Linked DNA regions of Homo sapiens. The protein of the gene in region 7 purifies or fractionates together with the protein of the main gene of each other region. This does not show direct contact. Each region holds a gene or a part of one and is shown on either strand. Other genes may lie near its edges. The genes, in order: KIAA1671, MYO1C, ITPRID2, ARHGAP10, MYO1E, MYO5B and NRXN1.

Evidence for each region.
Region 1: the proteins of NRXN1 (region 7) and KIAA1671 purify together in Homo sapiens (affinity purification with mass spectrometry, with the first as the bait; one large-scale study listed by BioGRID). This does not show direct contact.
Region 2: the proteins of NRXN1 (region 7) and MYO1C purify together in Homo sapiens (affinity purification with mass spectrometry, with the first as the bait; one large-scale study listed by BioGRID). This does not show direct contact.
Region 3: the proteins of NRXN1 (region 7) and ITPRID2 purify together in Homo sapiens (affinity purification with mass spectrometry, with the first as the bait; one large-scale study listed by BioGRID). This does not show direct contact.
Region 4: the proteins of NRXN1 (region 7) and ARHGAP10 purify together in Homo sapiens (affinity purification with mass spectrometry, with the first as the bait; one large-scale study listed by BioGRID). This does not show direct contact.
Region 5: the proteins of NRXN1 (region 7) and MYO1E purify together in Homo sapiens (affinity purification with mass spectrometry, with the first as the bait; one large-scale study listed by BioGRID). This does not show direct contact.
Region 6: the proteins of NRXN1 (region 7) and MYO5B purify together in Homo sapiens (affinity purification with mass spectrometry, with the first as the bait; one large-scale study listed by BioGRID). This does not show direct contact.

The regions. Positions count from the first base shown.
Region 1 is NC_000022.11:24,959,027-24,963,222, forward strand, and holds part of KIAA1671 (uncharacterized protein KIAA1671), read left to right. Parts: intron 1-4,196.
Region 2 is NC_000017.11:1,475,228-1,479,423, forward strand, and holds part of MYO1C (unconventional myosin-Ic), read right to left. Parts: intron 3,509-4,196; coding exon 3,389-3,508; intron 3,266-3,388; coding exon 3,183-3,265; intron 2,966-3,182; coding exon 2,860-2,965; intron 2,745-2,859; coding exon 2,664-2,744; intron 2,370-2,663; coding exon 2,278-2,369; intron 1-2,277.
Region 3 is NC_000002.12:181,894,467-181,898,662, reverse strand, and holds part of ITPRID2 (protein ITPRID2), read right to left. Parts: exon of another isoform or gene 3,965-4,196; intron 2,634-3,964; coding exon 2,584-2,633; intron 2,112-2,583; exon of another isoform or gene 2,040-2,111; intron 1,756-2,039; coding exon 1,699-1,755; intron 1-1,698.
Region 4 is NC_000004.12:147,878,361-147,882,556, reverse strand, and holds part of ARHGAP10 (rho GTPase-activating protein 10), read right to left. Parts: intron 3,326-4,196; coding exon 3,219-3,325; intron 720-3,218; coding exon 625-719; intron 1-624. UniProt on the Homo sapiens protein: GTPase-activating protein that catalyzes the conversion of active GTP-bound Rho GTPases to their inactive GDP-bound form, thus suppressing various Rho GTPase-mediated cellular processes. Also converts Cdc42 to an inactive GDP-bound state.
Region 5 is NC_000015.10:59,135,112-59,139,276, forward strand, and holds part of MYO1E (unconventional myosin-Ie), read right to left. Parts: intron 3,257-4,165; coding exon 3,087-3,256; intron 2,346-3,086; coding exon 2,269-2,345; 3' UTR 1-2,268. UniProt on the Homo sapiens protein: Actin-based motor molecule with ATPase activity. Unconventional myosins serve in intracellular movements. Their highly divergent tails bind to membranous compartments, which are then moved relative to actin filaments.
Region 6 is NC_000018.10:49,838,126-49,842,321, forward strand, and holds part of MYO5B (unconventional myosin-Vb), read right to left. Parts: intron 3,330-4,196; coding exon 3,240-3,329; intron 2,301-3,239; exon of another isoform or gene 2,238-2,300; intron 1,240-2,237; exon of another isoform or gene 1,170-1,239; coding exon 1,019-1,169; intron 1-1,018. UniProt on the Homo sapiens protein: May be involved in vesicular trafficking via its association with the CART complex. The CART complex is necessary for efficient transferrin receptor recycling but not for EGFR degradation.
Region 7 is NC_000002.12:51,025,417-51,029,612, forward strand, and holds part of NRXN1 (neurexin-1 isoform alpha4 precursor), read right to left. Parts: intron 3,779-4,196; 5' UTR 2,858-3,778; coding exon 2,086-2,857; intron 1,054-2,085; coding exon of another isoform or gene 955-1,053; intron 1-954.

The DNA.
Region 1 (4,196 bases), on a different chromosome or scaffold from region 7:
CAGTGTGTCAGGCTGTGTCCCATCTAATTCAGAGGCTGAGACAGGAGCATTGCTTGAGCTCAGGAGTTCGATGCTGCAGTGAGCTTTGATTGCACCACTGCACTTTAGCCTGAGACAGAGTGAGTCCTTGTCTCAAATAAATAAATACATAAATACATAAAAATTTAAAAAATTAAAATTAAAAATAAAAGGAAGCTGGTCAAGCACAGTGACTCAAACCTGTAATCTCAGCACTTTGGGAGTCAGAGGTGGGCGGATCACTTGAGGGCAGGAGTTTGAGACCAGCATGGCCAACATGGTGAAACCCCATCTCTACTAAAAAAAAATAAAAATAAAATTAAAAAAAATTAGCTAGGCGTGATGGCAGTTGCCTGTAATCCCAGCTATTCAGGAGGCTGAGGCATGAGAATCACTTGAACCTGGGAGGTGGAGTTTGCAGTGAGCTAGATGGTGCCACTGCACTCCAGCCTGGGCAACAGAGTGAGACTCTGTCTCAAAAAGTAAAAATAAAAGGAAGCTAACAAACAATCGAGGCACATACACACACACACACATATATATATTTTTTCCTTCAATGCAATGAATATTTTATTGAGCATCTTATGTGGGCAAGGCACTCTATTTGTGAAAAATTCAAAAGATCACCTGCCCTTAGGAATCCTCTGGTCAACTGTACGAGAAGAAGGAAGGGGGCAAGGTGAGACAAGTAAGCAAATAATTATGGACTTGACTTCTGGGCAGAAGCTATCACAGCTACATTTGTTAATTGCTCAGTTAAGTGACCTTTGAAATGTTCTATAGCCATGTCTCCATTAAGAATATGAAATACGGCCGGGCGCGGTGGCTCACGCCTGTAATCCCAGCACTTTGGGACCCCGAGGGAGGTGGATCATTTGAGGTCAGGAGTTCGAAACCAGCCTGGCCAACATGGTGAAACCCCGTCTCTACTAAAAATACAAAAATTAGCCAGGTGTGGTGGCGCCTGTGGTCCCAGCTACTCGTGGGGCTGAGGCGGGAGGATCACTTGTACCTGGGAGGGAGATTGCAGTGAATCGAGATCATACCACTGCACTGCAGCCTGGCGACAGAGTGAGACTCCGTCTCAAATAAATAAATAAATAAATAAATAAATAAATAAATAAAATAAAACAAATAATTTCACACGTGAATTAAAAATAGATTTAGGTACTTTCCCATTTCAGAATGTGTTGATTTACCTCATTATTTTTAAAAGCTGAATAAGGCCAGCTGTGGTGGCTCGGGCCTGTAATCCCAGCACTTTAGGCGGCCGGGCGGATCACTTGAGGTCAGGGGTTCAAGACCAGCCTGGTCAACATGGTGAAACCCCATCTCTACTAAAAATACAAAAATTAGCCAGGCATGGTGGCACGCGCCTGTAATCCCAGCTACTCGGGAGGCTGAGGCAGGAGAATTGCTTGAACCCAGGGAGGCGAGTGTTGCAGTGAGCTGAGATCGCGCCACTGCACTTTAGCCTGGGTGACAGGGCAAGACTCCGTCTCAAAAAAAAAAAAAAAAAAGAAAAAACTGAATAATTTCCAGTGCATGAGGTGCTATGAGCTTATTTAACCGATCCCCTGTTGATGGACATTGAGTTGTTTTTCAGGTTCTTTTTTTTTTTTTTTTTTTTTTGCTATGACCGAGTGCCGCAGTTAACATCCCTGTTGACATGTCTTTGCACATTTGTTGTAGTAGGCTGGAGGACAGATTTCCAGGATGTGGAACTTTAGGGAGGAAGGGTGTTTAGAACGTTGAAATGACCTGCCCAATTTCCCAGCAGAGTGGCTATACCTTTCACACTCTTACCACAGCTGTGCGAGAGACAGCCTCTTTGTATATTTCAGAGAGAAGGAACAGTGTTTGGCTGTCTCTTGTCTTTGGCCATAGGACATGGCCTCTGGCCTGAGGGAAGGTGAGAGTTCTTATAAGTGACAACATTTTGTTGCCCTTGGGGTTCTTTTTGTTGTTGTTGTTTTTGTTTTGAGACAGGGTCTTGCTCTTTCATCCAGGCTGGAATGCAGTGGTGCGATCTCAGTTCACTGCAGTCTCAACCTCCTGGGCTCAGGTGGTCCTCCCACCTCAGCCTCCCAAGTAGCTGGGATTACAGGCATGCACCACCACGCCTGGCTAATTTTTGTAGAGACGAGATTTTGCCACATTACCCAGGCTAGTTTCAAACTCCTCAAGCGATCCTGCTGCCTCAGCCTCCCAAAGTGGTAGGATTGCAGATGTGAGCCACCACACCCAGCCTGGCCCTTGGGTTTTAATACAAACTGCTGGAGACTCTGTCTCGGAAGATATTTGCCCATGTACACACGAGTCTTTCTGGACATACGTGGTCCCTGTATTAGTCAAGCTTTTCTGTGATCATACTGTGTAACAAACATCTCCTACATCGCAGTGGCCTTTAACAGCAAACATTTGTTTCATGCTCACGAGTCAGCAGGTAGCTTGGCTGACCTTAGCTAGGCTTCACCAGCAAGGCTGGCCCTAGGCTTTGGATTGGGTTCAGGTCTGGCTCGTGAATCTTCATCCAGATTCACAGGCTGAAGGGTGGCAGCCAGCCAGGGCGTGTTCTTCTGTGGTGGACAACAGAAGCCTCCGTTCTGAACTGAGAAGCTGTCACTTCTGCTCTCATGCTATAGGCTGAAGCAAGTCACGTGGCAAGCCTGACATCAATGAGTTGAAGTCTACTCCTCTCATGGAGGCTGAAGAAACATTTGCTGAGCAATAATAGAACCTGCCACAATTATGTTTCTGATGGGGTAGGACGGGTCCTTGCAGGAGTAGAGGGTCTGCCTGGAGGGCATGGGTAAGAATCATGGCTCATGATTTGTGTGGGACAAGTGGTCGCAGAGCAGAGGCTCTGGGTAAGGAGACCTGGTTTGAGTTTATAACCAGAGACAGGCAGTTCACCAACTGAGTCTCAGTTTCCTTATCTGGAAAATGGGAATAATTTGTCTTCTCTGGCGAGCTGCTGGGAAGCTCAGAGATATTACTGCATAAGAAGGTGCTTTATACCTGTGAGGCGAGATGGGAAATGAGGGATGATTGTCTTGATGATGATTTTTGTGCTGGAGCTGGCTTACAATCCCCTGAGCAGTGACACCTGTAGCCAGTAGAGTGAGAGAACGCAGCGACGCCAAGGTGAGACTGGGAGGGATAGGCCTGGGTTTGAATCCCAGCTGTGCTCGTTGTGGGCCACGTGACTTTTGATCAGCCTCATCACATCCCTCAGCCTCAGTTTGCCTGTCTGTAAAAGGGTCACAGTGTGCTTGTGCCCATTAACGAGGACTGTGAAATGCTTGGCATGAGGTAGATGATAACCAGATGGTGGCTGTGAGGATTGGCATGGAGCTGAGGGGGTCCTGATAGGGGCAGAATGAGGAATTCCGCCACCCATTCCCTTGGGAATATTGCAGGGAACCTGGAGCCGGACTGCTTGGATTCAAATCCCAGCTCCACCGCTTACCAGCTGTGTGGCCTTATGCAAGGCAGTTAACCACTCTGGGCCTCAGTTTTCTCATCTGTAAGCTGGGAGTAATAAGAGAGCTGGCCTCATGAGGTTGACAAGCATTAAATGTGTTAACACATATGGCACTTGCTAATGAATTTACATGAGCCTTAGCTAGTATCGTTAGGATTACTAGTATTATTATTAGTCTACGGAGGCCCAGAGAGGTTGCTTCCCTTCCTGGGAGCCACCAGGGCCTTGGGGAAAAGAATGATGAGAAGCAGATGCTTTTTGGGGCCCTGCATCTGAGCCGGTGCGCTTTCCCCCTTCTGCTGTAGCTGATACGGGTCAGTCCAGAGCAGGCCTTTGAGGATGGCCAAAGTGCCTTTACCAGCCACACAGCCCTCCTGAGTCCTGAAGCAGCCCTGACCCAGCCAGAAAAGAGTCACGGGGAGCTCTGATCTAAGAAGTATTCACATGGCGCCACTATGAATGCACTCAGCAGGCTTCTGGGAGCCCAGGTTTATGAGTATCCGCAGGGGTCACTGAGCTAGCTGCACGGTTAGAGGCCACTCACTCTCTCCTTCAGTTGGGCATCTCTCCATAAAAATGTGTCATGCATTGGGAGGCCGAGGCGGGCGGATCACCTGAGGTCAGGAGTTCGAGACCAGCCTGCCCAACATGGTGAAACCCCATCTCTACTAAACATACAAAAATTAGCCGG
Region 2 (4,196 bases), on a different chromosome or scaffold from region 7:
GGTCAATATGGTGAAACCCCATCTCTACCAAAAATACAAAAATTAGCCAGGCGTGGTGGTGGGCGCCTGTAGTCCCAGCTACTCAGGAGGCTGACAAAGGAGAATCGCTTGAACCTGGGAGGCAGAGGTTGCAGTGAGCCGAGATGGTGCCACTACACTCCAAAAAAAAAAGAGCAGGTGCACCCCCAGGGCTGGGTCACTGAGGCAGGCCAGGCAGGGCCAGTGGCCTCCCTGATCAGAGCGGACCATGGAGGCTCAGAGAGGTAGATGGCCTTGGCCAGGGCCACACAGTGCCAGGACCGGGACCTGGGCCTCCTGACGGCCAGGGTACGCTGCAGGGAGGGAAACTCTCGTTGCTTCGGCCGCTGCGGGCTCTGCTCAGAAGGGGTGGTGAGCTGCGCACTACTTTTCAGAATGGAATCTGCTGCCCCAAGAGAGCACTTAAGTCTTAGGCGTGTTTATACCCTTTCACCCATTTGCTTTTAAGAACTATTTCAAGCAGCTAACCAGAGACACGGACAAAGATTGAAGGCACGGAGATGTTTGTGGCAGCCTTGTGATTCCAGCAGAAACCTGGGAGGCTGGCCAGGGGCCCCGAAGGGCTGGGTGAGAGAGGGGAGTATCTGTGGGTCAGAACCGCTCCAGGAAGTGTTCTGAGGAAAATGTTGTTTGATGATACGGGAAAATGTGCAGGATATTTACCCTGAGCCTTATACACAAGTTCTCGACTACGAAAAAAAATGCATAGAAAAAGGCAGGAGGGAAATGCCTCACACAGTTAACAGCCATGGCCTTTGGGCGACGGGATCACAGGTGGCTTTTGCGCACATTCCAACTTTGCTGTAATAAGCAATATTATTTTTATAATCAGGAACAAGTTTTTAGTATTTATTATTTAATGAATCAGGCAGCCCCTAAACCCGAATAGATTCAGAGAGACTCCTAGAAACAAGTCTTTTTTTTTTTTTTGAGACGGAGTCTCACTCTGTCATCCAGGCTGGAGTGCAGTGGCACCATCTCAGCTCACTGCAAGCTCCGCCCCCCAGGTTCAAGCAATTCTCCTAGCTCCCAAGTAGCTGGAATTATAGGTGCCCACTACCACGCCTGACTAATTTTTGTAGTTTTAATAGAGATAGGGTTTCACCATGTTGGCCAGGCTGGTCTTGAATTCCTGACCTCAGGTGATCTCTGCCCACCTAGGCCTCCCACAGTGTCGGGATGACAGGCGTGAGCCACCACGCCCATCCAGAAACAAATTTTCAATATATTATTATGCAAAAAATACTCATGGCTTTGGCATTCAACAGCCCTGGCACTGACCCCAGCTCGGCAACCCAGATGAGAGCTAATTTTGGGGAAATGACTTCGCCTCTTGGAGTCTCAGTGAGAAAACACCAAGAACCCCTCAAGGAGCAGCTGCAGGTGAAGCGACGACATGCACAGCATGCATCAGACCGCGCTGGACAGAGGCGCTTGTTCCTGTTTCTACCTCTCCCCACTTCAGAGGATTCCTTCAATAAAAATCAATTTCCAAACAAGGAAGATGAAAAATCTTAGCAAGTTTCATTCTCAAACAAGAAGAAGGAGGAAGCCAGGCTACTAGTGTCTTGTTTTTTGTTTTTTTTTTTGGGGTTGAAGTCTCACTCTGTCGCTCAGGCTGGAGGGCAGTGGTGCGATCTCGGCTCACTGCAACCTGCACCTCCCGGGTTCGAGCGATTCTCCCGCCTCAGCCTCCCGAGTAGCTGGGATTATAGGCACCTGCCACCACACCCAGCGAATTTTTGCATTTTTAGTAGAGACTGGGTTTCACCATGTTGCCCAGGCTCGTTTTGAACTCCTAACCTAAGGTGATCCACCCGCCTCAGCCTCCCAAAGTGCTAGGATTACAGGCGTGAGCCACTGCACCTGGCCTTCTTTCTCTTTTTTAAAAAATTCATTATTTATTTTTTTCCCTTTTTTTTTTTTTTTGAGACGGAGTCTCGCTCTTGTCACCCAGGCTGGAGTGCAGTGGGTTGATCCTAGCTCACTGCAACCTCAAAACTCCAGGGCTCAAGTGATGCTCTTGCCCCAGCCTTCTGCATAGATGGGACTCCAGGCGTGTCAGCATGCCTGGCTAAGCTTCTTAGTTTCTGGACACATGTGAGGGGTCCTTAACTCAGCACCGTCCCTGGTCACCTCCTTGTGGCTGGTGTTTTGTGATGGCGGAGGGACTCCTGCACTCCGCAGGCTCTGCTGCAAGTGAGCCCTTGCCCCCAGCAGCCCCGCAGCCCCACTCACGTCAGGAAGTGTGGATGGTGCTTGACAGTATCCTCCAGCTTCTCCAGGAAGGTCAGGTCTGTGGCCTCCCCGGGGCGCAGACACTCCTCATCCTGGGGGGTGTGGCACAGGGGGAAGGACGTATGGGGGACAGGTCAGAGCGCACAGAGGATTGGGGTCACCGTGCTGGGAGGCACAGACACAGGGGAGGGGCAGATCACAGGGAGTCTCCACAGAGAGCTTCCAACTGGGGCGGCACCTCCCTCCATCCTCCATTCACAGCTCTGCCCTGTCTCTACTCAGCCCCAAACTCTGGCCCTCCGTGGACCAGCCTGGAGAGAACGGAGAAGGGGGACATCCTCCCACCCAGCCTCCAGCACCAGGCCTTGGAGGCGCAGAGGACTCACCAAAATCGAGATGATGCCCTTAAACTTCTCCTCCACCAGATCACAGATGATTTTGTTGTTGAAATACTGGACGGGCTCCCACTGAGGGGCAGAAGGGAAGGAAGGGATCACCGTGGGGTCCTGGCACCCTCTCCCAGGGGCCCCGATACCCAGGCTCCCCGTGGCCCACGGAGAGTGCCCCCAGGCTAGCACACACCGCGATGCCCTCTGCCTCGTACTCCTCCTGCTCCGACTTGAGCGTGAGCTCGATGAAGAGCTGCTGCAGCTTCTCGTTGCAGTAATTGATGCAGAACTGCTCAAAGCTGTAAGGAAGGAGAAGAGCCCACAGTGGCTCAGTGGGGACACAGGACCAGGAGAGGGGAAAAGCTGGACGACGCCCCTGAGCACAGGAGGTGAGAAACACAGAGACAGTCCCCGGCTGGCTGGGGAGTCACAGGGCAGGAATGAGAGGCTGGAGGACAGAAGAGAGGGAGCAGGACAGGAGACCGGGAGGAGAGACGGGGGAAAGATGGCACCGACCTGTTATGCTGAAACACTTCAAAGCCATAAATATCCAGGAGCCCGAGAACCGTGGTGCTCCGCCAGCTGGGGCTCTCCACGTCCTAGGGCAGTCATTCAACCGAAGGCGTGGGCCCCCTGCGCGTGCCAGCCCCACCCTGCAGCACCCCCCGCCTCGCCGACGGCCCTCCCTTCTGCCTTGGGAGCAGTGTGGACCGAGCCCTCACCTTGGAGGCCAGCGACCTGTTGATCTTCCCGACGAGCCAGGTAAAAGTGCGGCTGTACACAGCCTTGGCGAGGGCGTCTCGTGCGTACGCGGCCTGCTCCAGGTTCAGCGGGCTCAGGAGCTGTGGACGCAGCGTGAGACAAGGAGATGAATGCCACAGAGCCTGTGCATCCCACCTGCTCCCAGGCTCAGGCAGACCAGGAAGCCGCCACCACTCTGCACTCCCAGCTCCAGCAAGCCTGCAGTATGGGGAGGGGTGCTGGTAGTGGGACCTCAGGGAGGACAGGTGGCCACCCCAGAGGGAAGGTGGTAGAGGGACAGGAGGCCTCCTTCCCGAGGTGGGAGTCTGGTTCTAGCCGGACTGTTACTCTCTTCCTATGTGACCCTGGCCAGCTCACTGTGCTGCTTCTTTTTTTTGAGACAGAGTCTAGCTCTGTTGCCGTGATCTCGGCTCACTGCAACCTCCACCTCCCGGGTTCAAGCGATTCTCCTGCCTCAGCCTCCCGAGTAGCTGGGATTACAGGCGCCCGCCACCATGCCCGGCTAATTTTTGTATTCTTAGTAGATGGGGTTTCACCATGTTGGCCAAGATGGTCTCGAACTCCTGACCTCAGGTGACCTGCCCACCTCAGCCTCCCCAAGTGCTGGGGTTACAGGCGTGAGCCACGGCGCTCGGCTCTCACTCTGCTTCTCTGAGCAGCCTTCCTTCCATCCCTCCAGCATTGCTGAGGGAACCAGGCGAAGGGGAGTGATGGGAGTAGGGGCTGCCTTGGAACAGCTGCCCCTCCACACCCGAGGGCAAGGGCCCG
Region 3 (4,196 bases), about 130 Mb from region 7:
AACATGAAACTAACTACTCTCACTTGAGTGCTTAAAATAAAAAAACGTATAGGGAACCAGTTAAATTTCTTTAACAGGTTAGAAATAAGTAATGAGGAAGATATGTACCATATATGTGGTACTAATTATTAAATTTAAAAGCTATTAATGAATAATATCTTAAGAGGAAAACATGATTTAACATTAAGTGTGGCAATAGTATATGTCAGTTTCTAATGTGAATTTTTTTTAAGGTTATAACTGATTTTTCACACATATAACATGAAAATTTCTACTTATTTCAATATAAACTTTCTTTTAAAAATTGCCTTTCAACTTTATGATAGAACTTTAGCTTAAAGTTCTAAACAGGTAAGTGTTAATGTTTAAAGTTAAATTTATAGACAAATACAAAGAATAAAATTAATTATAAACACATCTATTTCAGCACACATGAATTGCTTTTCATTTCTGATCTACAAAGTTATGACAATTTTGTGTTTCTTTGTACATCCACCAGAAAGGTGCCTAACTCACAGCACTCAGTAATTATTTACTTAATGAATGGAAATAGCCTTGAAATAATTTTCAGTAAAACAACATAATAGATTTACTCTTTCATGAGACTCCTTTTTAGGTTCTGGTTTCCAATAAAATCATTCAATATTATCAAACTACCAAGGCAAATATCAAAAGTGCAAAGTGCATTTTAATAACGGATTGACAACATGTTCAATTGTACTGAGTGGGAATCAGTAAGTTTAAGCTCTTTATAGAGCTTGAAAATATATGAACAGAAATAATAAGAACTAATATATTTGCATATTCCAGAGTTTTAAATGTTAGAAGGTTCTAAATAAGTAATTTACTTTACAGATGCATTTGAAACAGGAAAAAATCAAGAATATTAAATTCAATGTATAAATTCACTATTCACCAACTTGTAAGCTTTAAAGACTTTTTAAAAATCCTTGTTTTTTTTAAAAAAGTACACATTAATAACTGAGCTATACAGCTATGAATAATCTATGCAATTTGATCAATGAGCTATAAAATAGCTTTTAAAACACCAGTAAAATAATTAAAAATTCTTATTTTTTGTACAAGAAAGCTTTATTATAAATCTACTGGAAAACATTACATAACTTGTAAAAACTTTTAAATAGCACAACACACTTTTTAAAATCTAATGCTTTCTGGAATAAACACCAGCATGATTTCTAATAAAATTCTATTAGCTCTGCTATTTTGTCTTTCCCCTTTAATTTTCTAAAAATCAGGAAAATGGGGAAAAGACAGGAGACACTTAAATGCAAAGAGAAAGACAAGCTGCAGCTGTAAGTATGACATAAGTCTATTTTGCGCTAAAAATAAGCTTCAATTTTGTTTTCCCATGTATAAATATTTAAGTGTCCTTCCTTTTTCAGGACAATTCTTCCCTCAGTTATATTACCACGGTTTGTTACAAACTGTTCCTTTAAGCATTTAGTCCAAGAAAGACAGATGGACACTTCACATAGTTTTTCAGAGTCATCCCTACATGTATCCTACAGACTATGACTAGATTATTAACAAAGAAAGGTAATGTAAAATATGCCTGAGCCATTTTCAAGACCTTTAAATTTAGCTTGAGGATCATAAACCTGAAACCATTCAGCTTTCTCATTTTTTTTAAATTTGAAAACTACACAAAAATACAGTTCTTCCAAACAAACATACCTTCAGCTCCCAATGACAAATCATCTTCAAAACTTCCTCCATTTCTCACAAGCACACCTGAAAGACACATTTGAAAACTCATCCTGGTGTTCTGTTCCTCTCCACCCTCATATAAAATCACTGTTTTAGTTAAATTCACCCAGCAAAATATCTTATACAGTAAAATCTTTCAGACTTGAATGTACTCAGACATTATTCTGATTATATAACTTCAAGAAGCAGGTATAAGCTTTTACTTTAACGTAAAGAAACCACTTTTCCAGCAACATAAAGTTCTCAGAAGCCAACCTATAGGCTGTTTTAAACTTATATTTTTGAAGATGTTCAATCAGACTACATACCAAGAGTTTCATGGAAAACCAGATCCTGGAGCAAATATTCTTCTTATCCATCTCATATTAAGTCAGGAGCTGGATTTTCCTGACACTGTAAATGTTTTTTTATATGCCTTGCCACTGCCTGCACATGCTTGTTGTACTTTGAACTTTAGAATTCTGTCTTGAACAGGTGGTAAAATTTTAGGTGTGGCAATTTCAGTAAATGTAAGCAAAGAAATGCTGCACGAAAGTTGACTAAACTTTTGTTCACTCAATAAGTATTTTCCTTATATTTGCATATTATATATTCATATTTAATTAGTCTTTATAATACCTAACTGGACAATAAAGATATAAGTTTCACGTTGTGAAAAGGCTAGGCAATTTGCTTAAACTCCCTACTGTTTTACGGTTTATAACAAAGTTTCTCCATTTTGCTTCTAGCTCAGAATAGCATATACTATAAACATGAATATCACTTTTATAAGTCATATATACACTTTTACCCAGAGGACAAAGAAGTAGAACTGTCATAAAGAACAGATTTAGAAAGGCAACCTTCTCTTACCCTTGAGTGTACTACTGCTTTGTTCATCCAGTGAGGCTCCCAAAGGTGTACTGAAACCATATAAACGTATAAGCCTTAGTCTTGTGAAAGGCTATTTGGAAAGTTGTCATTACACAGCCTTACTTAAAGAGTTACAGCTCAATAAGCTTCTAATCACAGTTAAACTCTCCTCCAAAAACACACAAGGAATGCAAGTAGATTACATAAGTAATATTCACTAACTAAGCAAATACCTGCCATCAGGTCAGTTCAGCAGGAATGATTTAATCATGTCTGATGTGCTAACAATTAGGGGCAAAAATGGCAATGACAAATGATTTGAATTGGCATTTTTCTTTGCAAAAAAGAGAGAATGACTGACAATAAGCATTAAGAAAATGTCTGTTCTTCTCAACCCCTTCCATCAAAAAAGAAAACAGAATTAGAAGAAAACAAATCTTCAGTCATAGGTAACTTAACCTTAATAAAATTAAAAAGTGAAGAGTAGTTGGAAATGAGGCCCAATAGTTTCCTTAAACCTCATCTGTTAATCTATCACTAGCATTTCAGAGCATCACCTAATGCCTCCCCCTTGCCCCAACAACTATCTTTTTATGTAAATGTAGAAGCTTGAGATTCGCTTTGTTTTTAAGCTAAAAAATATATATATTCTTCATTTAACTTTGAAAATTACTAAAAAGTTGACTTGAGAATCAACATTAAGATTAGCCATTGCTAAAATTTTTTCATTCTTGTAGTTCAAATACAGATGAGAGAAATATCTTTTTTTCAAATACAAAAATAAACACTTTTAATTCTCTGAAACCAAGTTATAGTAAGAAACACATTGTTTTATATTGGAGGGTCTGTTTTGTGATGCACACCTTTCTTCAGTAACAATTTATAGCTGTTAAAAATTCACGAGACATGGGATCAATCATGAAAATATCAGTTTCAAGGAAATGTTACTGAAATGCCAATTAAAGGTTAAAACTTTCTACAAGTATACTAACAATGGCAGCTCTTTAAAACTTAGTGCTTTTGAAACGTAAAAGAATCACAAGCAATTACCATAAATATATTAATAAAAGCTTTAATCTATTTTTTGCATATATTTTAATAAAATTCTAATGTATGTCTTTAAAAAGTCATCCTTCCCTGATGGCTACTTTCTTGGATGTAAACATTGTATTACTCTGTCCACAGATGTCTCTACTGGTCTATGCACTAACAGAAAATGGTAGATAAGCAGAGTAACAGGAATCCTCCTTCGAAAACAAATATCTTACTTTTATAGTTGCTCCCTTCCAAATTCTATCAAAATCTCTACCATTTCTTAAATGTTAATTCAAGCAGTTTTTACTTAGTCCCCCCACAAATGGTTATCAAAATAAAGACTCCCTTTAAGGAAAGAAAACACGGTATCTTTATTCAGGATATGGACGGCACTAAGAAACAAAGACTATTTGAGAACTTATCAAGTGGGTAAAATGCTGTCTTCAGGTCATTTGTACATAATAAACAAAATACATAGATGCCCAACTCTGAGAAGGAACTTGAGTTGTTATTTAAAACAAAAATACAGATGCAACATATCCTAAGTCGAATCTGTGATAATATAGCCAAGATTAAAA
Region 4 (4,196 bases), on a different chromosome or scaffold from region 7:
TTGTCACCCAGTTCCTCTCGCCATTGTTCTCTTCATGCTACAAATTAGGCTTGGATCAACAATGAAAAGCTCCAAGGCAATTTTTTTTTTTTTTGAAACGGAGTCTCACTCTGTCGCCCAGGCTGGAGTGCAGTGGCACCATCTTGGCTCACTGCAGCCTCCGCCTCCTGGGTTCAAATGGTTCTCCTGCCTCAGCCTCCCATGTAGCTGGGACTACAGGTGTATGCCACCACGCCTGGCTAATTTTTTTGTCTTTTTAGTAGAGACAGAGTTTCACCATTTTGGCCTGGATGGTCTTGAACTCCTGACCTCATAATCTGCCCACCTCGGCCTCCCAAAGTGCTGGGATTACAGGTGTGAGCCACTGCACCTGGCCTCCAAGGTTATTTTTTAAGTGACAACCCTGGTTAGAATGACTCCTAACTAAATCAAGATGAAACTATCACCCCATAGCTAAACCCGGTGATCAAGACTAAACAGCTTATAATGAACACACAGCCTGGAAATATAGCAAGATAACATTCTCCCAGGCCACAGAAATCACAGTTGCAACTAACCTCTATTTTTTTAAATCATTTTTTTAAAACGACTCTTTCACCATGTCCAATAATTCCAATAACTTACCGATCAGCAGCTTCTATGTCAAAACAAAACCTTCTGTCAATGGAGTCAGTATGCCTCTTGGTACATTCTTTCAAAAAGAACACCTCTCCGTCCCCCTGCAAATAATCATTTTGAACATTCTCAAAACCTACAGGATAAGTATATACACACTCAGCCATTCTATACTGGAGAGCAGGGGAGCAAGGTTCAAGATCTTAAGTCCTTCTCTTTACCCTATCCTCTTTCAAACTGGCTTATTTAAATGCTATTTAGAATCTAAAATATTAATATTTTTGTCATTCTCCTGATTCTTTTGAGAAGGGAGCCTCGCTCTTTCACCCAGGCTGGAGTGCAGTGGCAGGATCTTGGCTCACTGCAACCTCCATCTCCCAGGTTCAAGTGATTCTCCTGCCTCAGCCTCCAGAGTAGCTGGGATTACAGGCATGCACCACCACACCTGGATGATTTTTGTATTTTCAGTAGAAACAGGGTTTCACCATGTTGGCCAGGCTGGTGTCAATCTCCTGACCTCAGATGATCCACCCGCCTCAGCCTCCCAAAGTGCTGGGATTACAGGCGTGAGCCACCGCGCCCAGCCATTCTCTTGATTCTTAAGATTTTCTAGACCTTACTGATGATGGTAATGTTATGCCAGACAATACCAATGTTACTTTTTTTTTTTTTTGACAGTCTTGCTCTGTTGCCCAGGCTGGAGTGCAGTGGTGCAATCTCAGCTCACTGCAAACTCCGAATCCTGGGTTCAAGCAACTCTGTGACTCAGCCACCCAAATAGCTGGGATTACAGGTGTGCATCACCATGACTGGCTAATTTTTGTATTTTTAGTAGAGACAGGATTTCACCATGTTGGCCAGGCCAGTCTCAAACTCCTGACCTCAAGTGATCTGCCCACCTCGGCCTCCCAAAGTGCTGGGATTACAGGCGTGAGCCAGTGTCCCTGGCCAAATGTTAATTTTCAAAGGTAGATTAACAGTACAGTTTTAAGATACTGGAATACTGTTAGTCTCTTATTGTACTCTTTTTTTTAGTGTAAAAATTTATTTCTTACCACATGTCACAAAAAATATGTGACTATTTTTGGCCTATAAAAATTGCAATTCCATACACGTCAGCCTAAAAGTACACCGATAACCCTAGATTAAATATTTTCATAATCTAAAGCTAGAACCATTTAATCTATGCAATTTCTCTCTTCCCTATGTGAATCACCCTGAATTTATCTTTACTTAATTTGCAATGCAGAAATACAAGTGCTCAGTAAAAGAACAACTATATAAAGTGTGAGTACACACTTATTGAACATTTTAACATTTTCCAGAACGTGAAGATCTCTAAGTAACAAACATTAAGATACACAAATATTCAAAATCTCACAGTTATATTCCATAACATATTTATCATTATTATTTGGAGGCTAAAACAGAAAGATATCACTAAGCAGAAATATCTTAGGACTTGAACTGGCTCTGACAGGAAACTCAGTCTCAAACCTGATGCTTCAAGAGCCATCTCCTCACTTCCTTCTCCTCACCATGACTAATTTTCCATGTCTGTTTCATTATTATATAAATGTGTTTTTATTAAAAGCTGCTTTAAATATTTTTCAGGGAAAGGCATAGTACAAGTAAATAGAAGTGAACATAGGTTTTTCTTTTTTTATTCACCTAAGCAAAACCATACCCATTCACCCAGTAAGCAATGAATTAAGCTGCTTTCTTAAAATGTGTTATCAATTATGTTCAACATTGGTGGGAAGCTTTGTCTCTAGGCCATTAATTATTGTAATAAGCTGCAGATTCCATTTAAAATACATATAAAGATCACCTTTCCTACACAGCCAACTCTGTGAGGTCTTCTTGCTCTTTTCTTACTATCATGCTTTGCTGTTTTAGTTTCAGGGGGAACAGTTAACTAAATGGTGAATACCTATGTGAGAACTTTGTAAGATGAACAGAACAACAGTAAAATTTATCGTAGATCACTCTTCTTTGTTTTCAGGCTATGAACAGCAAGTCAGTTCCATTGTATAAATGCTGAGGAACCACTGAGTCATGAAAGCTTGCTGTCAGTGTTACCTTTATCTTCCAAACAGTGGCATAAAAAGGATTCTATTGTTCACCTAAAAAATATCTAGTGGTTAAAACCACATATTCTCACTCTTAAGTGGGAGCTGACAATGAGAACACATGGACACAGGGAGGGGAACATCACACACTGGGGTCTGTGAGGGGGCTGGGGGCTAGGGGAGGGATAGCATTAGGAGAAATATCTAATGTAGATGATGGGTTGATGGGTGCAGCAAATCACCATGACACATGCATACCTATGTAACAAACCTGCACGTTGTGCACATGTATCCCAGAACTTAAAAAAAAAAAAATCTAGTGGTTTAAAACCCATGCATGTAATTCAGAAAACATATATATTGTTCTGTCTTCTGGCCCATTTCACTCAAAAACAAAACAAAGATTTTAATACTAACAATTTATTTACCATCCATGAATATAAACCATTAAAATATAAACCATTAAAATGACACCCTCAAACACTACCTCTGACAGATTATAATCTATTCTATGTTGAATCAAATACTTACAAGTTTCCCTCCAGATCTGTGCTCAAATGGGATCATGTTGAACTTCTTTGCTGCTTTTCGATACATGCAATAGTGTTTGACCCAACTGGAACCAAACGGAGCAGGCCCTTCAACAAAAAAACAGCCCTTTATATTTTCCCTCATAAATAAGCAGATTTGCAGAGCTATAAACACATTACTAAAGAGGAAATGTCTAAAACGCAGCAACGAATACAGCTGAATCAATGAAACAAATCAGCAATACTGCTAGTTCTAAGAAGAAGAGGGGAGGCCGGGCACGGTGGCTCACGCCTGTAATCCCAGCACTTTGGGAGGTCGAGGCGGGTGGATCACAAGGTCAGGAAATCGAGACCATCCTGGCTAACACGGTGAAACTCCATCTCTACTAAAAAAAATTAGCCAGGCATAGTGGCAGGCGCCTATAGTCTTAGCTACTCGGGAGGCTGAGGCAGGAGAATGGTGTGAACCCAAGAGGCAGAGCTTGCAGTGAGCCGAGATCGCGCCACTGCGCTCCAGCCTGGGCAACAGAGCGAGACTCCGACTCAAAAAAAAAAAAAAAAAAAAGAGGAAGAAGGAAAATAAGAGATACTTTGAAACAAACCTCTAAGATTTAGCAAGACAGAAGTGATTTAAAGACATACTGTTTAAATAGTTTGCTAGAAAAATCAACAGTTATGTCCTATCTGAAAATCTCTTAATTGTAAGCTCTATTTTTTGTTTGTTTCTAGGTATTAAGAGCTCACAAGGGTTTCAAAAGTTCCATCCCATATATGAGATGGTTTGGGATTTAATTCTGGCCTCTCAAAATGATAGAATTATAGAATCATAGTGCTAAGAAGCATCTAGTCTAAAAATCCACCTAGTGCTTTAAGTCCATGAACAGCATCCTAGTAAGCAGCTGCTCTTACTGATGATTGAAAGCTAGCCTTTAAAAATGAAGTATGGGCCAGGCGCAGTGGCTCACGCCTGTAATCCTAG
Region 5 (4,165 bases), on a different chromosome or scaffold from region 7:
ACCTATTTCAGCACCATTTGTTGGGCATCTCCTTGAGCCTGGCACTGGCTGGGCACACGATGCAGGTGCTAAGGGCTTGGTCTGTGATTTCCATGGATGAGGGTGTTACTCGTGGGGGTTTAACTCAGTCCCTGTTTTGTGACCTAGAGCCCGATGGTTCCCAGTTACACACAAGTGTAAAATGCCAATCAATCAATCAGGAGGAAAAACAAAGGCTTGTCCCAGCCAGCCAGGGGCTTATGATAACAAGGGAAGATGGTCCTGGTGTTCCTGCCCTGAGAACGCAGCCTGAGTGCTGGTGGCTGTGGGGACTCCAGCATGCTCCTCTGTCCCAGTTCTGGTGGTATCTTCCTCCCACTGCGGGGAGTCCATGAATGTGAAAGTACTTTAGAGACCACTAGTGTCAACAGGATTACCTTTCCTCAACTCACCGCATCATGGCTCTACTTTCCTCTCTGGTCGCAACATGGAACTGAAGTAGCCTTTTAACATTATTCGTTACTGTTACAGAATGGAGTTTGCTCCCTGTTCTTGAAGTAAAACACAGCAGAATTAAATGTATCTTCGTTTCAAATCTAGATCAATTTTTTTCCCTTATACGTAAGCCCTGATAATTTTTTCCCATGGACTTGAGGATCCTGAAAGCCTCAAAGGTGTATGCTGCTCAAACTCTAAGTTACCAGTAGCTTAAGAATGGCTATGGCACCCAGAGGAGGAAAGGTAGAGAAATGGCAGTCTCTACTTACAACCATTCCATTATTGATGGGCATTACACTGATTCCAGCTTTTCACTATTATGGCAAGAAAACATTGTTTTAGTTTGTTAGGGCTGCCGTAACAAACTACCACAAACCGAGTGGCTTAAACAGCGAAATGTATTGCCTCACAGTTCTGGAGGTTGGAAGTCCAAGACCAAGGTGGGCAGGGCTGGTTCCTTGTGAGGGTGTGAGGGAGAATCTGTTCCAGGCCTCTGTCCAGGGCTTGTGAATGGCTGTCTTCTCCCTGCCTTTTCACATGGTCTTTCCTCTGGCATGTTGGTCTCTGTGTCCAAATTTCCCCTTTTCATCAGGACACCATTATATTGGATTAAGACCCACTCTAATGACTTCATTTTAATTAGTTTTGTTTGTTTGCTCCATAAAGACTCTATTTCCAAATAAGGTCATATTGTGAGGTACTGGTGGCTGGGACTCCAACATCTTCTTTGGAGGCACACAATTCAACCCATAACAAATGTCATAAAAGAAGAAGGTGTTCGCCGATTCCTTTATTTATTTAGGAGGTGGGGGCAGGACGCGGAGTAAGTTTCCTATAGGGAAAGAGTTGAGAAGAGTCTGCAGGGACTGACCTAGAAAGCAGTGACACTCCGTAGTTGGAAAAAAGCAGAGCACATCTTTAAGTACCTGGTGTGAGTTTTGTAAGAAAACCTACCTTATGAATGAGTACAGTGGAATACTACTTAGTACATTCATACATGTTTCTACCATCTCAAGATTTTTATATATACAGTATATGATCTGTTTTTATAAATGTACAGCTTGAAAAAAGATCCTTCTTGTAGTAAGTACAGCATTTAAACACAAACCAATATGGGCCAGCCACATTCTAATTGAAGACCCAGAGAAAGCAAAGCCAGCAGCCCAGCCCCCAGCCCCCAGCCCCTGACCTGCTTGGCGGCCCTGATGGTCCCGGCAAAGTGTAAACCAGTGCCCCTCTGTCGCCCTGGGCTCAGCAGGCCAGCTTACCCTTGGCACGTACATGGGAAGTGCCTGCTCACGCTAAGCCCAGTCTGCAGAGGGCGGGTCCTCCCTGAAGGAAGGTGGCAGAGAGGAATGTGTCTATCAGGTATGGACAAGAGAGATGAAAGAAATGTGCTCTTCAACTAAAGGCACTTGTCAGCGGCCACCTACAGCCATTCTCTAGGCCTGGTGAGCAAGCAGGGTGCTGTTTTGATAGAAGCCTACAAGGTCTGAGCAGACCTCACTTGTCCTCTCACCAGGTTTAAATACAATAAATAAATCTTAATGCATGGTGGTTTTGTCCTCCTGGGTTCCTATGAAGAGGCTACCTTTTAGGATCACTTATGGAGTGATACTCCCTGTCCCCAACCCAGCCTTTTCAGTGTCCTCCATGGGGAAGGTACCAGAATAGCTCCAGGCCTTGGAGAAGCAATTGCTCATTGTGGATTGTAAGGGGAGCCCCTAAATATCCCCTCCCCTGGTCTGTGCCTGGAGCTCCTCTGCCCCATGTGTCAGAGTCACGGGCACCTCAGATCTTGGTCACATAGTTGTTGGGGAACAGGCCCTGCTTGCCTCGTAGTCGACCCGTCCACCAGCCAGAAGGATCTGCAGGGAGAGAGAGGTGGTGGAAGTGAAGATGAGAAAGTCTGTTCTGCCCCAGCCACACACACTCCGCTCCCATGGGCTCAAGTGATTTGGCTCCATCCATGTTGTTTTCCCTTTGTTCTTTAAATCAAAAAGTTTGTTGAAAAAAGTAAGATATCTACCAAATTAATAAAGCACTCAGCCAAGCCCATGGACTGCTTTAATAATGGATATTCAAGGTTGTCTTCCTGGCTTCCACTCCATCCACTTTCATTATGAAGAAGCCAGGAAGTGTGGGTGGGACAGACCTCCCCGTTTCTGGGGACAGCCCCTACCAGGTCTCATCCTCTCAGGGTACAGCCTTTGTCTTGCTACTGAAGTTGGTTCAGGGATGGACACATGGCTAATTTGGTCTGATCAGAATAAAAGTCAGGACTTTTGTCCAATGACTAAGAACAGAAGTTTCAGAGATGATGCACATTTCAGACATGGTTTGATATGTTGGCCTGGAATTGCTGCTGCCGTTTTGCTACCATGAAGAAAAACAGCTTGACAAGGGAGGGAATATAAATAAGGGGGCAGAGCTGAAAGAAGCATTAAAAAAGCTGGTGTCTTGATCAGACTGAGCCTGAGGCCTGACCTGCCTCTACAAATTGCAGTTTGAGGAGCCCATAAATTCTTTTCATTTTCACACTAGATCTTACAGCAATGTGACTGCATGCTCTTTGGGAGGCTGTCCCAGCCAACCAGCCACACACTTACCTTCTTTGATAATATCAATAATGTCATTGGCATTAAAGCTGAGTTCGTCTGTGTCCTGAGCGTCATAGGCATACAAAGCCTTGCACTGTGGCACCTGAGGCTTGGGCTTGGGCTGGGGCTTGGGTCTGCCCCCTGCTGGGGGAGGCCGACTGGTTGTTTGTCTCCTGACCCTGTGGAGAGAGTGGAGCAGATGAGACTGGGCCCCAACAGGGGGCAGCAGCACCGAACGGTGGTTTGGAGCATGGCGGCCGGCACTGGCCTGTTCAAGTTCAAATCCAGCTCCATCCTTAGAAGACATGTGGCCCAGGGTGCAGTCTTTAAACTTGAGGAATAAAAGTAACTTTTCTGACAAGGTTGTTGCAAATGCACATAGCTCTTAAAAACCTTAGCTGCTGTTGTCACTGTGTCCCCAGCATAGAAGGAAATGTGGGAGACACATATCCATAAAAAAGTGTCAAAAGTATACCCATACATTTAAATCAGGAACATTCAGGTATCTGTCCCTCCTTCCTCAAGTTTCGAAATGGAACTTTTGCAGGTGCCACAGAAGCCTGTAGGCATTTCTCCTTCACTGCATTCCCCCCAGATTACCACCACCTTACAGTTTGTATTAACCATTCTCTGGCTCATCTCTACAGTTTGCCACACATGTAAATACCCCTAGCCAATATTTGTGGTCCGACTGTCAACTGTATGAAAGGAATCATATTCCACGGTCACATGCTCAACAACTGGATGACGTGCCCTGCTGATGCCTGCAGCTATCGTTCCTTCACCCTTGCTGCCTGATACTACACCACTGCGCGAGTGAGTGTGTCACAGTTTACTTCTCCAGGGCACTGTGGATGGTCACTTGGGATGGTTCCAGTTTTCACTATTATAAAAAATGCTGCCATGAGATTTGCTCCCCATTCACAACCTTATTATGCCTCAGACCTCACTCCTGTCTACTCCCATCCCATCTATCCACCCACCCTCATTACTCCAGAGACTTCCCTCCCACCAGTTCATTATTACTCCTTAGACTTCCCTCCCATCCCTCATTATTACTCCTCACACTTCCCTCCCACCCCCTCATT
Region 6 (4,196 bases), on a different chromosome or scaffold from region 7:
CAGCCACTGACTATGTAAATAAGAGCTTCATTGGTCCGTCATACTTACTAAGCAGCCATTACCTATGCACCAGGGGCTTTATGTTCAGTATCTCTTTCAATCTTCCAACAACTCTATAAAGTACTACCCATTTTTATGAGGAAGTTGAGGTATAAAGCGGTTAAATAACTTGTCTGAGGTCACACTGATAGGGAGTGGCAGGGCCAGGATTTAAACCCAAGTCTGTCTGACTCCAGAACTGCTGCTATTAACCTTCACATTATTCTGAGTATCTCCAGCTTGATATGTCAGTTCTCCCTCTGTCTGGTGCCTTATAAAAAGATTTCCAGACAGGAAGGAGGGTTTGGAATGAACCTCATTTCAAGTAATGTATTTCTAGATTGGTCCTTCTTGGGATTCACTCATAACCTACTTGTGTTGTAAGAACCTGGGGAAAGCATTATGAATAGGTCCAGGTACACTTTCCTTCCCAGCCTTTGCAGAGCACAGTGAGTAATGCATCTACACATAATTTTTCTTCCGATTGAAAATGTAACTGCTCTCATTTCTCAATTCTGATTTCATGTTCAGTGCCCAAGTACACTGCTTGGTTCAAAGCAAGTGTCTAATAAATACTGATGCATCGTGCCGACTGCTGTGTCCTTTCGCATGAACACTCCTGCTTTTTTCCATGAATCAAGTTCATAATAGGTTAAGAGGGTTATGCTTTTTCACTGTATATGCATTTGTACCTTTTGAGTTTACATTTATTATGTATTAAAATTTGGGAAAAAATACAACATATTACAGAAAAAGAGATAAAGGGAAAGTCATCTATGCCTCTTGCACTGTGTCAAATACTTTCACAGCTTTTTAAGCATGATGTGCACACCTCAGTTCTGCCTTCACTGGAAGGTTCTGGCTTTCTGGAGGTCATGGCTAAGATATCTGGTTCCCGAAAGGCAGAGGGTGCTGACCACGCCTTCCCCTCATTTCAGACACCATGATGAGTGATGTAGCTCTCCTGCTGCCAGCTTACCTATCATCGGCTGTAACACGCCCTCGGCAATTTTAATGAGCTGCTGGTAGATCTGAATGGAAAGGTCACTCAGCACCTGACGGTATTCGGTGAGGTCAAAATTCTTAAGACAGTGTTCATTCTGCTTTGCAGTGTTCTGAGTCATGAAGCCCTGCAGAGGGAGAGGCGTGCACTACTGAGTTCTCTGGTCTGCTGGGCCCAGCACAACTTCCAGGGCTCTGGTAACTTTAGTCATCTATTTGGTGGGCAGGGGGCCTACTCAGGCCCTCCCTATGTAGATGATGTTTTACAAAAGCCTGTCAGTTCTTTGAGGCCTCATTGATGACCCTTGAACTTGAAGGATGTAGAAAAACTCAACATGAGAGAGAAAGCCTGAATCGCTCAGTCCAAATCCCTGAGGCGAAGTGATTTCCCTACGGTAGCAAAACCTAGGTTGGTACCAGGTCCAGAGAAAGGGATCCCTGCTTTTTCCCTTCATCCAGCGCTTTCCTCAATATATCAGGTCCCCCTAAAATGTTAGATGATGTGCAGCCTCTAAAGGAGTGTGGCCATGGGCCAGATTATACGCTTGTATGAGGAGAAATTTTATACAGATTCTATCACTGGTTATCAGAATTAATAGATGAACTAAAGTGATTTCATAGCTACCGCACTGTGTCCTCTTAGCTTTCTGTATTAATCAGATGAAATCACATGTAAGTTAAGGGAACTGCTGATATCAGAAGGGCTCATGTGACCAATGTCCTTTTCATTCAGGCCTAGGGAAACCAGTATCTGCCAAAAAGATTAGTGCTCCCAAAAGGGCAACCATCTTCAGCAAGGCCTGTTGTACTGTGTCAAATACAAAGCCATCTTAATATGAAAAAAAGCAGGCAGAAAAGGGGATAATTGTAATGATGAAGATAGAGTCAATCATTCTTCCTTGTTATTTGGACTACACGGATCTGGTCATGCTGTGGTTCAGCTCTTGACCCAGAGAATATGAGCACATGTAACCACAACCTAATGTAATGGAGTTCTAGGTCCTGCCCTAGCCTTATATAACCTCCCATTTAGAATGTGTATAACATTGGGTAAAGTGATGGACCTCAATGAAATAACATTACATGTAGTTCTATGCTTCAAGTAAATGCTTGGATATTATGATTTTGTAACAGAAGTCATGGGGTTTGAAATGGCTATTTCTTTAACCTTTGGCCCATCTCTTTTATAATAAAAGCAGGCCATCAAATGAAGTGCTGGTTCTTAGGAGAGAGATGGCGTCAAGCCAACTGCAAAGAAGGTAAGACTGAAAGGAAGGGCATATCCTTTTACTAACCCAGGGAGAAGAGTCTGTCAAAATTGGTTCTGGCACAAAAGATGGAATAAAGCTTTAAAAATGGTCGCACTATTTTGGTTTACACTATGTCTTGACCTTGGGAAGGGTGGATGGTGAGATATGTGAAAGGAAGGGGAAGAAAAGTTGGAAGACCTACAGGAACCTGTGAGCGGGCATATCTGGAACAAGCTGGGATTCTCACCAGAGAAACTAGAATGGAAACAAGCCACATATTACTAGGTCATTGGGCAGAGTGCAGAGCATGGGAGAAGTTCTTTCAGGGACCAAAGCTAGGAATGTGAGTTCCAGAAAAAGCTGGGCCTTACAGGTCCGGTGTGGATTGTGAAGTGATGGGGTTAGTAGTTGGGCCTCAGGTCAAGGAATCCAATTTGGATAAATGCATGGAGCTGGGCCTCCAGGTCAGTTTGCACACACGTAGTTCTGATTATGGTGTGCCTCTGTTCTTGTGGCCATCTTTGTCTATCTTGAAATGGACAGATTAATCAGTTGGCTTAGGAGACAGGGTGACCCACTAGGCAACTGAGCTCCCTGCCAGTATCCACTGCAGTGGGGCTTCTAGAGCTGATACAGAAATGTCAGGTTACAAGAGTTTCATGGAGACTCCCAGGGCCTCTATTGATCATGGGTTATGCAGACTCTACTTACATAACCCAGGAGTGCTTTTTGGGGCCCCTTGGGCTCATCAAGGCCTCCTAGAGGCAGGTCTCCTGTGGCTGGCCTTATTGCTGCTTCCAGCCACGAGGCATGATAAGGTGTGCCCACGGTCTGAGGTCCCCAAGGGTGCTCCAAAGACCCCACTGACCTCTGAGGGTATACAAAGCACTTCTCAACCACATTTGGATGAAGCAGGAATGCCTCCTGGGTGCCTGGCTCCCCACTCACCTCATCCCCGCTGTACTGCTTCAGACAGTGAAGAAGGCGGCAGGTGTTGGATAACCAGAATGACGTCATCTCAAAGTCATCATTGTGCTTCTGTGAAAAGAAAAGGACATCCTCAGCTCTAAGTGGCTCCCATCTGGTGAAATGCTTCCTCGGTACCTCTTTCCCCACATTTCCTACCCTTACCTAGTGTTCCTGAGCAGCCCTGAGGCTGGGCAGGGCACTTGCCAGTCACGGGGTTGAGACCCATTGCTGAGAGGCTGTGTGAGTGTTCCTCTACCACCAGGGATGGTGCACAGAACCCCCACCTTGGTCTCCTGATCAGTGGTGCACATACAGGGACACACATAAAGGACAGGCTGCCTTCCATGGCTGAAGAATGAATGCAAAGCTGAGTGACAGATGAGGCTCTGCCCCAACAGCCCCGGGCTCTCGTCTAACCGCCTGGGCTAGCTGGCTCTGTTTCTGAACTGCCAGTTATCCAACACAAGGGATGCTGAAGAGCATAACAGCAAAATAGTTTGGTGTCCCATTTATCTAGATGTCAGATGCATCATGGCTTTAACTCTCTAGAAAATGGCTACAAACCCTAACTAGGTGAAAAAGCCTGCTCAGCAACCCAAACAGCTATGAGACAGCTGCTGCATTAAAGCTGATGACTTCACGCAGCTCATTCTGTCAAGTAAGCGTTATCATTATTTAAATGACAGAGTGGTATGAGGTACGACCAAAAGAAAAAAAAAAAAAAAGAAATGAGGTTGAATAGAAAGTGACTGCTGGGGCTGGGACATGCTATTTTAGCTCAGAATTAGGGAAGGCTTTCCTAAGGAAGTGACATTTGTGTCAGCCCTAAATTGGCCTAGACTGGCCGAAGATTCCAGCTGGATGGTGCTCACGAAAGAGGATCAAGGCTGGAGACACAAATCTGAGAGCCACGAGCATGCAGATATGTTTTAGAGC
Region 7 (4,196 bases):
ACTGTTCCTGATTATGCATGATCTCTGAATCCCTACATTAAAAATGCATAGAAAAATAAAAATTTTCATTTAAAACACCCTCCCACACAGTACAAGCTGTCATTGTGTCATATTTGTTTCCTAATTTAAGGAAGGAAGCTATATTTCATGGGTCCTTCATTAAATTGCCTTCTCTGTATTTTAAAGTGGCATTAGGATACTTAAGACAATTTTCCCATAAAATAATGTTCATTTTAAAATTTGTTTCTATTAATCAGTGCAAAAGTATGCAACTTCAAATTACAGTATGGAAATTATCATATCTACCTAGCATATTATTCATGATTCACAAGTAGATTTGCTAGAAGAAAAAAACTATCTTTTTTATTTTGTAAAACATAACTGTAAAGCCTGCTCTCATAACCATAGAAATGTACTGTTAAAGCTGAAGTGCTGTATAGGCCATGGAATACACAGTTTTCTATAATTACCTAAGCCAAAATATAATGAAAAACAAAAACCCACATGAAGACAGAGCGCAACAAAATAGCCCTTTCTTTCTTCCCCTCCTCCTAATCCTGTGAAGGCTACAGAAGTCTCCTAAAGACCAGTTTTTTTTCTTCCTAACTAACTCTCCTTGCTGTTTAAACAATTACAAATCTTATCAAGTCTTCATTTCTCTTAAAGTCAAGTGAGAGAGAACTGCCAACTCTAATAAGATTTACAAAGGCTAGTTCCCCTTAGCACTGTCAGCAAAAATCAAAGACATTATACAATAAAACGCAGCCACACAGAGCTTTTGTCCCTATAGCTTTCGAAATCAGATTTAATAATTCACCTTTTTTCACCCATTTCAGCCACAAATGCCATTTATCCATGTGTTGATTGCCTTGCTTTGACCCATAAGCTATCTACTTTAAATCCTGACATCTCCTACTTAGCCACTGATTCGTCTTTTTCACACCACTCACTCACTTTCTGTTAGAGGCTTTGCTGTATTTATACAACAGTATTTTCCTTGGTCATTGTCATGTAACAGCACCGGCAAAACACACTGAAGACCGAATTTTATTTCTAAAGAGGAGAAAAGAGAACTTAGGTATGACTTTTGTAGTTTAATGCCACACTGTTTTAAGCCCCAAGAACCACAGAAATTACAACTTGGCCTCCACTACCCAGATAAATGTCATTAGCCGAATATCCTTAGAAAATCTCTTGCAATCCCTTACATGCATCCCTGTTTATTAGTCTGCAGAAGCTTCCCAATCCAGCAACATCTAAATTTCTCTACTACTTTATTTCTCTTTATAAGGCATTTGTTAATTAAGAAATCTTATTTAATCTCTAACATTTTTAAACGTCAGCTGACCTCACACTTCAAGAAACCGCATAAATGACAAAATTTTACTTAAATTTCACAAATGTTGGACTTGGATATAACAGTGGAAACCAACATTATTCCAAAAAGCCTCCTGCTAATGAAGAAACGCTTCACATCCTCTCTTTCCCTTTTTCCACAACGAAAAGCAGGTTTTTACCGCTCTATCTGCAAAAGGCAGAGCACTGCCCGTGAACCCTGTCTTTCTCGTCCTTTACCACGAGTGACCAGAACCACGTGGGGATTCTCAACCACGGCCGTGGTATACCTCTCCTGTGCTTCATTTCTCATCAAACACATGCCCAATCTTCTAGATGCTTGTTTGCATCTTAAGGGCAAAGTCTGTGTGTTACAGATTTAGAAGTGGTAGAGACAAGTACAGTGGTCATATAGGTGGGCCGCGGCCCAATATAGGGCCCAACCTGCCAAAGAACCCGAGGAATAAGAAGAGGCCATTGTATTTGCCACTTGGAAGGGAGTAGTGTTGGTAGAAAGGTCTCCAGAAGGAACTCAAACTTGGATATGGGGGCTGCCAATCCTTAGGAGGATGTCAAGGGAGAAGCTGTGGAGGTGGTAAGGTAGAGAGTCCCCCAGAAACAAGGTCCTTCCCTCGAAGCGAACTGCCACACGTTTGCCAAGATTAGGAAGACCCCATGCACCAGCCCGGTCCCCTCCTCCCCGAGCCCCGCCCAGGCCCCGGCCCCCGTGGGTCGGGCGTCGGGCCTTACCTTGGCTGCAGTCCTTGCCGCGGAAGCCGGTTCGCGAGCAGTCGCACACGGCCTGGTCGTCCACCACGGAGCACACACCTCCGTTGAGGCACACCCCGCCCTCGCCCTCCTCGCCCGCCTCGCACGGGCTTCCCCCGCCGCTGTTGGGCGGCTCATCGTCCAGCTTCACCTCGCCGCTGTCCACGGGCAGGACCTGCGAGGAGTTGACCCTCACGTCACGAATCCACCCCTTGAAGGGCTCCCGCTCCCTCACCGAGGCCAGGGTGAGCTTGAGCGCCGCGGCGCGCAGTTCCGGGGGCAGCCCCCCGACGAAAAGGCCGCTGAACACCGTCATGTCCCTGCGCTTGGACTTGACCTCCACCCACTTGGCCTCCACCTGGTCGATGAAGAGCGTGGTGTTGCGGAACTGGCGGCGGATGCGCACGCTGTGCCAGGCGCCGTCGTTAACCGGCGTGTCGGCCAGGAGCGTCGCAGGCTCAGCGCAGAAGATGGAGAAGCTGAGCTGCAGGCGGCCGCCGCGCGTCAGAATCAGCTCCAGGAAGTCGCAGAAGCCCTCGTCGTCGAAGTAGAGCACGAGGCCGCGGGCGCTGCGAGTCTTGAGCTGGAAGCTCATCTCGCTCTCGCAGCAGGCGTTCCACTTGGGGAAGCGCGTCCATTGGCCCTCGGCGCCCGGAAACTCCAGCCCGCTGCCCAGCTCCGCCCAGCAGCCCAGGAGCAGCAGCGAGAGGCACAGAAGAAAACAGCCCCCGCGCTGGAGCAGCGCCGTCCCCATGCTCGGGGCTGGGGTGCGGCGGGGGGGTGCCGGGGCCGACAGGGTCAAAATGGTCCTGGACACCGTGACGAAGAAATAAGGGTCCCGAGAGACAGAAAGGTAAGGGGAAAGGCGGGAGTGAGAGGGATGTGCCCTCCTTTATCTAGTTCTTTTTTTCTTCTTCTTCTTCCAATAACCCCGCCCTCTCTCCCTGTAGTCCTCTTCCAACTGGAAAACGTTGACCCCAGTGGTACAGGGTAGCCACAGAACTTCCAGACCAAAGGGAGGATGCACTTTGGAGACAACGTTCTGGAAAAGGCTTCAACAAAAGATCAAGGGAAAGCACTGACCCATTTGAGTCTGATTAACTAATTTAAGAGTATCTGCAGTGTCAACAGATACTTAACTCCTCAAATCCCATTATCTGCCAGGTTCCACCAGTGGTACCAGGCCAAAAGGAAGCAGTGAGAGTCAGTAAAAAGAAAACACTTTTCTCAAGAAAGTACAGGAAGCCAGCAGTGAGCCAGTATCCTTGGATGCTTGTGAATGCCTCAAGTCTGTCTCCTTCAGATGTGGTGTCTTACAGCAGAACGGAGAAAGGGATGCTTGCCTCTTTAGGGCACCATTTCTTAACCCGAGGATAGCTTCAAAGGCCTGCTTCTTCTGTCATAGCATGGGCTTCAGCACCGCTGCAGCCAAAGCCTAATTCCTTGTGCGTGGTCTCACAAGTTGGATTTTACTTCTCTTTTCAGCCACGGCAACAGTAGGACTCAAACCCAGCAGTTGCGAAATAGCCAGAAGCTGTTAGATGTGGAAATCGCAACAGCTCCTCTTCTTTTCTCTCTGCCTCTGCAGGGCCAAGCTAAGATGCCAGCACATCAATTGGTTGTGTGTTGGTGATGCATTTTGGTTTTATCTTGTCTTTTTTAAGGACTCAGACATCTGCAGAGAATTAAAGTCAAAATTAAGGTCTAAAGTCAATATAGTATTATATAAATCATTATTCAGCTCATAACACAAGTGTAGACCTGGTCCTATTAGTAAGGCAAAGAGTTAACCTTCTTGTATGGAGCTTTTGTTATCCTCACTACAAGTAAGTCCTAACATTTTCTAATAGTTAATATGACACTTTTACAGTCAGCCATGACACCCTTGTAGTTTATTATAACTGTTAGTTGGTAACCCGAAGTTTTAAAGAGAAATTTGATTATGGTTATCTTTTTCTTTTCGCAAGATAGTTTAATTTTTAAAATATGTGAGGGGAGAACAAATGCTTTTAAGGATTTCTACCTATGTTGTGTGCTTGTTCTGTGGACAGTAAAAATACAACCTATTCAAATCTCAGTTAAGAGATTTTACA